Linked DNA regions of Homo sapiens. The protein of the gene in region 1 purifies or fractionates together with the protein of each later gene. This does not show direct contact. Each region holds a gene or a part of one and is shown in the gene's direction. Other genes may lie near its edges.

Region 1 (4,390 bases):
TGCTAAGAGATTACAAGACATGTTGCAACCAATTTGGAAAACAGTTTGCCAGTTCCTCGAAAGGTTAAACAGTTGCCATATGACCCAGCAATTCCACTCTTCCTTATCTATCCAAGAGAAATGTAAACATAAGGCCCCCACACAAAAGCTTGTACCTGAATGGTCAGAGCAGCATTATTCATAATGGCTAAAAACTAGAAACACGCGAATGACCATCACTGATGAATGGAAAAACAAAATCTGGTATAGTCCCAGCTCCCAGGAGGGGCAGTATAGGTCTTTCATGGCGGTGTGGGCCTATCCCAGGAAAGGGAGGGGTGGAGTCAGACATACCTGGGGCAGATGTGAATCCAGAAGCACTGATACATGCTACAATGTGGATGAAACTTGAAAATGTTCAAGAGAAAGAATCCAGACATAAAAGGCCATATATTGTATAATTCCATTTATATGAAATATCCAGAAAAGGGACATCTATAGAAACAGGAAGCAGATTAGTGGTTGCCAGGGACTGGGGGAGCCAGGATGCGGAGTGACTGCTAATTGGTAGGAGTTTCTTTTTGGGGTGATGAAAATGTTCTAAAATTAGAATGTTGTGATGGCTGCACAACTCTGTAAATATGCTAAAAATCATTGTACACTTTAAACGTGAATTTATGGTATGTTTATGTTCCATAAAACTGCTGGGGAAAAGACTACAGGAGAAAGTAGGTAGAGCTTCGGGCGTGCGTGGCTCAGTAAACGCTGGTGATTATTAATAATTAGGTCTCACGAGGTAATTTAAAGCCCCAGAAGCAGTGAGTGCAATGGGACTGCCAGACTTCTGGCTCAGGCTGGGCCTTTAAGCCGCTCTGCGTCCCTGAACTCACTTGGGCCTCCTCAGAGTTCCTCATAAATGAATGGGGCAAACAATCCCTACCACGTCCTTGGGGTCTCGCAGGGAGCGGGGCTCAGGAGGCAGATGAGGAATCCATGGAGGAAGCCCTGGGCCTCCGGCTCGCGCTCTGCAGTAGGTGACAGGCCCCGCTTGGAGCCAACCCGGAAAGGCCCGAGCTCGTCCAGGTGAGTTCTTGTGATTGGCAGCCCGGAGGAGGGCGGGGAGGGCTGCGGTGACGGCTGCCCCGCCCCCTCACTTCGGGCTTGTTGGCGCCCGCCGGGGGAGGGTGGGCGGGGCCCGGGGTCCGCGGCGCCCATTGGGCGTGGGGGGAGAGCTCCGGGGTGGGCCTGGAGCCCCGCCCCCCGGCCTTGCGGCGGCCAATAGGCGCCGCGCGTGGGCGGGGCGTCGGCGGCAGCAGGGCGGCTGAGGTGGCCGCTGGAGCTCAGGCGGCGGGCGCGGCTGGGATGGCGAAGAGCAACGGAGAGAATGGGCCGCGCGCGCCCGCGGCCGGGGAAAGCCTGTCGGGAACCCGGGAGAGCCTGGCCCAGGGCCCCGACGCCGCAACCACCGACGAACTCAGCTCTCTCGGGTCTGACTCGGAGGCCAACGGCTTCGCCGAGCGCCGCATCGACAAGTTCGGCTTCATCGTGGGCTCGCAGGGCGCCGAGGGCGCGTGAGTAGCGCCGGGGGTCGGGACTGAGCGCGCCACCCACGCGAGGGGCCTCGACACGGACGGAGGCGCCCTCGGGACTTGCCGACACGTCCCCCTCCCAGGCAGGGACCACTAATCCCCGTTCCCTCCCCTGCCCCACCCCCACCACCCCTGCCTTCCTAGACCCGCCCCCTTCGCAGTCCTACTTCCGACCCAGGGGGCGGACGGGCCCACACCTCCACCCGCCACCTCCACCCTCCGGACAGACTGACCCGCTCCCAGGAAGGACCGACTGTGCCCTCCTTCCAGCCGTGGAACAGAATGACAGACTGCCCCAAACCCACCCCTGCCGCCAAGACCTTAGGGATGATTGTTTCTGCCACCCCGACAGGCTCCCAGATGGCTGGCGCCCCCCTCCATAGACACTCATTCTCCATCTTTCCCCCTCCCACAAACCCACAGACGCCCTTGTCTCCCCGCCTCACTGCCCCCACACCAGGAGACCTCAGACCGACTTCAGGACTGACTGCCCCGCCCCCACCCCTTCCCAGGACAGACTGACCCTTTCCTCGAGGCATACAGACCTCTGGATGGACAGACATTGGTCACCTCCCTCCCCTCAGCTCCATCCTGGGACAGACAGTCCCTTCTCCTCATGGAAGGGTCGGAGAAGGGCCCCCTATCCGCTCATACACAGCTTCCTCCACTGGCACTGGCAACAGGTGGGCAGGTACTCCCCCTTCCCAGCACGTACAGGGCGACAGGGAGCCCCACCACTAGGACAGACCATCAGCTCCAGCAGCCACAGGAGCCAGTAGATGGGCTCTGTGTATGTCCTGTGTATGTATGCGCCTCCTCCCAAGGGCAGATCTTGGGCGTGGGACGGGGGCAGGCAGGGAGACAGCAGGGTCCCTGCTCATATTAGCACCCCCCGATGTCCTATCCCGAGAGCACCCAGACACCCAGCTAGCAGACAGAGAAATGTGGGGCAGTGGAACAGCACCTTGCCTCCAAGCTGGGCCCCATGTTGCCCCACAGAATCCCCCGAGCCCAGGCCTCAGAGATCATGTGTACAGGCTGGCGGTCCCCTTAGGAAAGATGGACTCCATACCCCACTCCCATCCCAGCTGTCCTGTCACGTGAGACCAGTGTTGTGCACAGAACTGACAAGACTCCCTCCTGATGTGTGCTTTCCATCCCAATCACCAGTAGGAGCTCCTGGGGCCCTGCCATGACCCTACTCCAGAGAATATCCTTTCTCCCTTTCTCTGACCAATTGAGATTGTCCAAGGTCACCCCAGACTCTCTCATGACTTATGGAAGCGCTTTAACTGTCTAAGAACCCCTGTCACTTCCGGGATTTTCCCCAGCCCTAAAGCCTCTTATTCACCAGGCCTCCTTCTTCCTTGGAGAAATCCAGGCCCCTCCCCTAAGGGGAGTTCCCTCTCACCCACTGGATCTGTCTCCTCCAGTATCTCCCTACTGGCTCACAGCAGGCTAGGTTTAGTCCAGGACTCAGAGAGAGCACCCCTCATTCTGAACCCTCACCCTGACTGATGCTTTGTCACAGTTCCCCAGGGATTCACTTGTGAGAACTTAGTGGGGACCTGGAGTGTTTTGAATTGAGGAGCAGTCACCTGGGATTAGGACCCAGGGAGGTGTGTGGTCTTGAGATCTAGGAAAGGAGTTCCCAGTTGCATTTATGGGACCTTGGAAGGAAGAGCTCAGATTTGTGGGAGAATGCTAGGGCATGAGAGTTCCTACTACATGCTTATCAGGCAATCAACCAGATCTTGGGGTGCAGAGCAATGTGATATATTAGGAAAAGGCCAAACTTAGGAATTACACTTGCTAGCTTTGTGACCTTGGGCAAGATCCTGAATCTCTGAGCCTGTTTACTCACTGTAAAGGGCGACAGTAACACCCACTTCCCAACATTACTCTGGGGGTTAAATGAGTATATGATACGTGAAGGTGCCTGGCACAGCGCTTGTCACAAGTAGCGGCCCAGAAAATGTTAGTTTTCTTTCTTTCCTTCTAAGGGTCTGAGAAATGAAGAGAAAAATGAGGGCATATCTCTGGTATTTGTGGGCAGAGTGAGGCCCCAGTGGAAGCACCTCCCTTTGGCTGTAGTCCCCAACCAGGCAGCCAGACATCTGTCTTTCTTACCCCACAACCACAAACCCGGGATGTGGCTCTGCAGACACCCTCTACATGGCTGCTGTCTGTAGGGCTGGGGCTGAGGTGGGATCCCAGCTCCAGTCCTCTCTCCTTCCCTCACTTTCTGGAGCCTGTCAGTCAACCTAAAATCTCTGGTATCTGAAAGCTTCGATGTTCCCTACTTAATTTATATTGTGGTTTCAAAAAAGCCAAGAGTAAGTCCCTGCCCAAGGCCATAGAGGGGAAGTTATGGAAAGCTTCAGGGTGACCGCCCTGAACCCAGTCTCGTGGTTGAAGGCTAGGAGTCCATGTTCTATGCTAGAGAAGTGAAACGTTAGCCCTCATGGGTACTGTGGAGATGGTGGGGACTCTGACTCCAGATTAAAGGTCCATTTCAGCTACCCTGGGCCAAAGGTTGTCTTAAGACATTTTGGATGTGGAAGTTGCCAGGCCTGGGGGTAAGAAAGCAGGTCACAGGCTACCTTACTGAGGTGACTATTAGCTACATGGCATGAGTAGATTAAAAAAACCATAGACTGCACTGTAAGGGATCTTTTTTTTTTGAGACGGAGTCTCGCTCTGTCACCCAGGCTGGAGTGCAGTGGCGCAGTCTCAACTCACTGCAACATCTGCCTCCCGGGTTCAAGTGATTCTCCTGTCTCAGCCTCCTGAGTAGCTGGGAGGCAGAGATTGCACCCATC
Region 2 (3,809 bases), on another chromosome or scaffold:
TCTATGCAAGTGCCATTGGTCCATTCTGGATGCTACATATTAGGTTCTTGTATCAGGGTTCTTGTTAACTTTGTAAAATAAAGTGAGAGTTTTCACATTTCTTGCCTCATACTCGGGGGCAGTTCAAGTAGCGTAAGTATGGTTTCTGGTCCTGGATGTTACAGTAGGACTAATATATAACTCTTCTTGAATTCAGTGCCCTTTATTGGGGGAGAGGTGACAGAGATGTGGTTCTTTGACAATGCTTAGAGTTTCTTTCACAGTGATTTGGGTTTTCAAATTCTCCTTGGATTTTTCTTTAAAGAAAAATTCCAATGTGATTTTAGTTACTGTTTTAGAACAGATCTGTGTCCCAGGGTAGAAGCTGGCCTTCCCACCCCAGAGGATACCTCCTCAACCCTGCCAAGCACCCATAGCCTCTCTCCCTAGTCCACCCCTTCCAGGGAGCCTCTGACGTGGCAGGCAGCATGCTAAAAGCTGCCAGTTGAAGGCCAGTGGTTTTATGAACATCCAGGGGTGAGAACAGTAGAATAGCCCCTGCTTTACTGATAGAGAAACTTATCCTTCAGTGGATTAACCCACTTACCCACACTGCTAATGAGAGGTGTAGGCAGGGCTCCAACCTCAGCCTGACTTCATGCTCCTGCTGCAGCCATCCCACAAAACTTCAGAGGTGTAGGCCAACCCCTAGAAACACTCCAACATCACACTGCCACATATGAGGTGGGGTCAAGGTCAAGTGGGAAATGTAGCAGTTGGAAGCACAATGGATATGTCAAAGTACCAGATGCATGAATTATGAAAGAAGATGCCTTGTAATCCCAGCACTTTGGGAGGCCGAGGTGGGCGGATCATGAGGTCAGGAGATTGAGACCATCCTGGCTAACACGGTGAAACCCCATCTCTACTAAAAGTACAAAAAATGTGCCGGGCATTGTGGCAGGCGCCTGTAGTCCCAGCTACTCAGGAGGCTGAGGCAGGAGAATGGCCTGAACCCGGGAGGCGGAGCTTGCAGTGAGCCGAGATCGCGCCACTGTACTCTAGCCTGGGCGACAGAGCGAGACTCCGTCTCAAAAAAAAAAAAGAAAGAAAGAAAGAAAGAAGATGCATGAATTTTGAAACAAGTGGTTGTTCCTTATTTGGGGACAGTGTAAAAAAAAAAAAGTAGTTTTCCTCTATGCAAGAAATAGGAGCAAAGAAAGTCCTTGAGTGCCCTCTTGTGGAGAGTCTCAGCTTGATCCCACCGCCCTGGCATTTGCTGAGCCTCCTCCCACCCAAAGTACAAGTTTAGGGGTTTTCCCCTCCTGCTCTGTCTCCAAGTCATGGCACATCCTTGTAATTTCAGACCCTTTTATAGGAATGTGCGACTGGCAAAGTGGGCATGTGGCATTTTACTGTTCATTTGCCCTGGACAGGCTCTGAACCAGCAGATGATGTGCTTACCAGGGCTTGACTTGCAGGGAGGAGCCAAGTGGTTGGTGTCCAGAGGTCCTGGGTTCAAGTCCTGTTCCCACTGCTCATTGGCTGTGTAGGATGGGGAAGACACTTGATTCTTGAGCCTCAGTTTTCCCTACCTGAAAATGGGAGACTAATATCTACCTCTCAGGGTGATTTGGGGATTAAAATAAGTAAAGCAATCCACAGAGAAGATTAGTTCAGGGCCTGGCACAGAGTAAGCACTTGCTAAACGATAGCTGGTGTTATTATCTGTTTGAGCTGGGTAAGTAGTCAGGTGCCTTGCTAAGGACAGTAGGCAGCAGGACCACAAGAACTGGTAGAACCCAAGGAAGGTTGGGTGGCTGTGCTGAATGGCTTGATAAAGGTGGGCCTGGGGTGTGTCACAGGGTCAAGCCACTTAAAAGGAGACCTGGGCTGATCTGGCTTTGGGGGTGGCAGGGCCGGCCCAAGCCTGGGAGATACAGGGTCATACCTAATCCATTCACCAGCAGCCTAGGACATCACTTTAGGCAGGTTACCTACCTCAGCCCACAGTCAATGCCCCTTACACTTGTCCCACCCATGGCAGCACTTAATGGACACAATTTTTGTTTTTAGAGGCAGGGTCTCGCTCTGTTGCCCAGGCTGGAATGCAGTGGGGCAATCATAGCTCACTGCAGCCTCCAACTCCTGGGCTCAAGCTCAAGTGATCCTCCAGCCTCAGCCTCCCAAGTAGCTATGACTGAGCCACGATATCCAGCTAATTTTTTTTTCATTTTTGTAGAGACAGGGTCTTGCTGTGTTGCCTAGGCTGGTCTCAAACTCTGGGCCTCAAGTGGTCCTCCCACCTCAGCCTCCCAAAACACTGGGTTTACAGGCATAGGCCACCACATGCAGCTCACAATGTCATCTAAATACAATTTGTACCTGTCTTGGGATGGGGGGCTATTCTCTGGGATGACAGGGACCTGGACAAGTGGACATAGGGCAAAGAAAGACTGAATAATGGGCAGGGGGCGGGGAGGAAGGGAGCTTCCAAGTGAGACAGTGCCAGGATGCCTTACACCTTTGAGGGTCCATGCAGCTTGTTGAGGTGGGCTTGATTTCCTGGAGGCTGGGACAGGAGCTAGGGACCTGACCCATCAGTGAGGAGGGAGGGCCAGGCCCACCAGGGTAGCAGCCTGGGTCCCGATGGCCCCCAGTTAGAGAGTTTATGGGTGACCCATTCATAGGGGCTTCCTGAGGGTGTGAGGACTGCTGAGAGCTCTCCCAGAGAGACCCAACCCTCAGGGCTTAAGTTGGGGTGGTGGGGCCACGAAGTGGGCCCAGGCTTTGATGGACCCTCAGGAGTGTAAGGGGGAAGAGTGGCTAAGAGTTTCTGCTTGGATTTCCCATCTTGGGCTCAACCCATGGCCCTTGATGCTCCCTAGTTATGTGGCCTTAGACAAATCACTCTTAACCTCTTCAGCCCTGTTTGCTGAGCAGTAAGCTGGGGTCAGGATGCATCTGTCTGCACAGTGATGTGGAGGAGGATTAAATTAGGTGATGTGTTAAGTGCTTAGCACAGTATCCTGAGCATAGAAAACCCTTATGAGAGCCCAAAGGAGAAAAAATTAAAAGATTTGGACCCAGGCCCAAGGAGTGATGGTGGTGGTGCTGATGGGGTGGGTGTGGTGGAAATAGGGAGGCCTGGACACAACCTGGTTATCAGCACAGAGGTCTGGGCAGAACTCACCTCCCTCCCAACTTCACACCCTGTGGGCAGAGCAGAGAGCCTCCCATTGGCCCCTTACCTGGTCCTGGCTGAGGATGTTCTGCAGAGGCAGAGGCCTAGGCAGGACAGCACCGGGCTGCTGGGGCTTAGGGATGGCACCCCCTCCAGCGCTTTTTCTCTGCTTTCCTCCAAGGCTGCATTCGCGATTCTATGAGCTGGCCCCCAACCTCGTCCCAATGGACTACAGGAAGAGCCCCATCGTCCACGTGCCCATGAGCCTCATCATCCAGATGCCAGAGCTCCGGGTATGTGCAGGACCTCTTGCTGGCGAGCAGGGGATCTGTGCCTCTGGACCAGCAGCAGAGGCCCCCAGGTCTAGGCTGAACCCAGCTCCACCCTTTGTGTCTGCGTGGCTCTGAGCAGATCACAGAACCTCTCTGTGCCTCAGTTTCCTCATCTGTACTCTGAATAAATAAGCTATGTGGGCTCTGTAAGGGTGCTGTACATCAGTGGCCACCCAACTGCAGGCCATGGGCTTGTGCTCATTTGCTTGTCCCTTTGTTAAGTGGCCCCAAGCCTGCTGTAGTTGGCAGACCTGTGTCTGCTTTGTTAGATAACTTTTCTGTCTCCCCGTTGTCTGGCTGTGGCTTCTCACTGA

The links.
Region 2: the proteins of TBC1D10A (region 1) and CIB2 purify together in Homo sapiens (co-immunoprecipitation; one large-scale study listed by IntAct). This does not show direct contact.

The regions. Positions count from the first base shown.
Region 1 is NC_000022.11:30,323,833-30,328,222, reverse strand, and holds the start of TBC1D10A (TBC1 domain family member 10A), read left to right. Parts: upstream 1-1,281; 5' UTR 1,282-1,341; coding exon 1,342-1,550; intron 1,551-4,390.
Region 2 is NC_000015.10:78,110,812-78,114,620, reverse strand, and holds part of CIB2 (calcium and integrin-binding family member 2), read left to right. Parts: intron 1-3,344; coding exon 3,345-3,456; intron 3,457-3,809. UniProt on the Homo sapiens protein: Calcium- and integrin-binding protein that plays a role in intracellular calcium homeostasis. Acts as an auxiliary subunit of the sensory mechanoelectrical transduction (MET) channel in hair cells.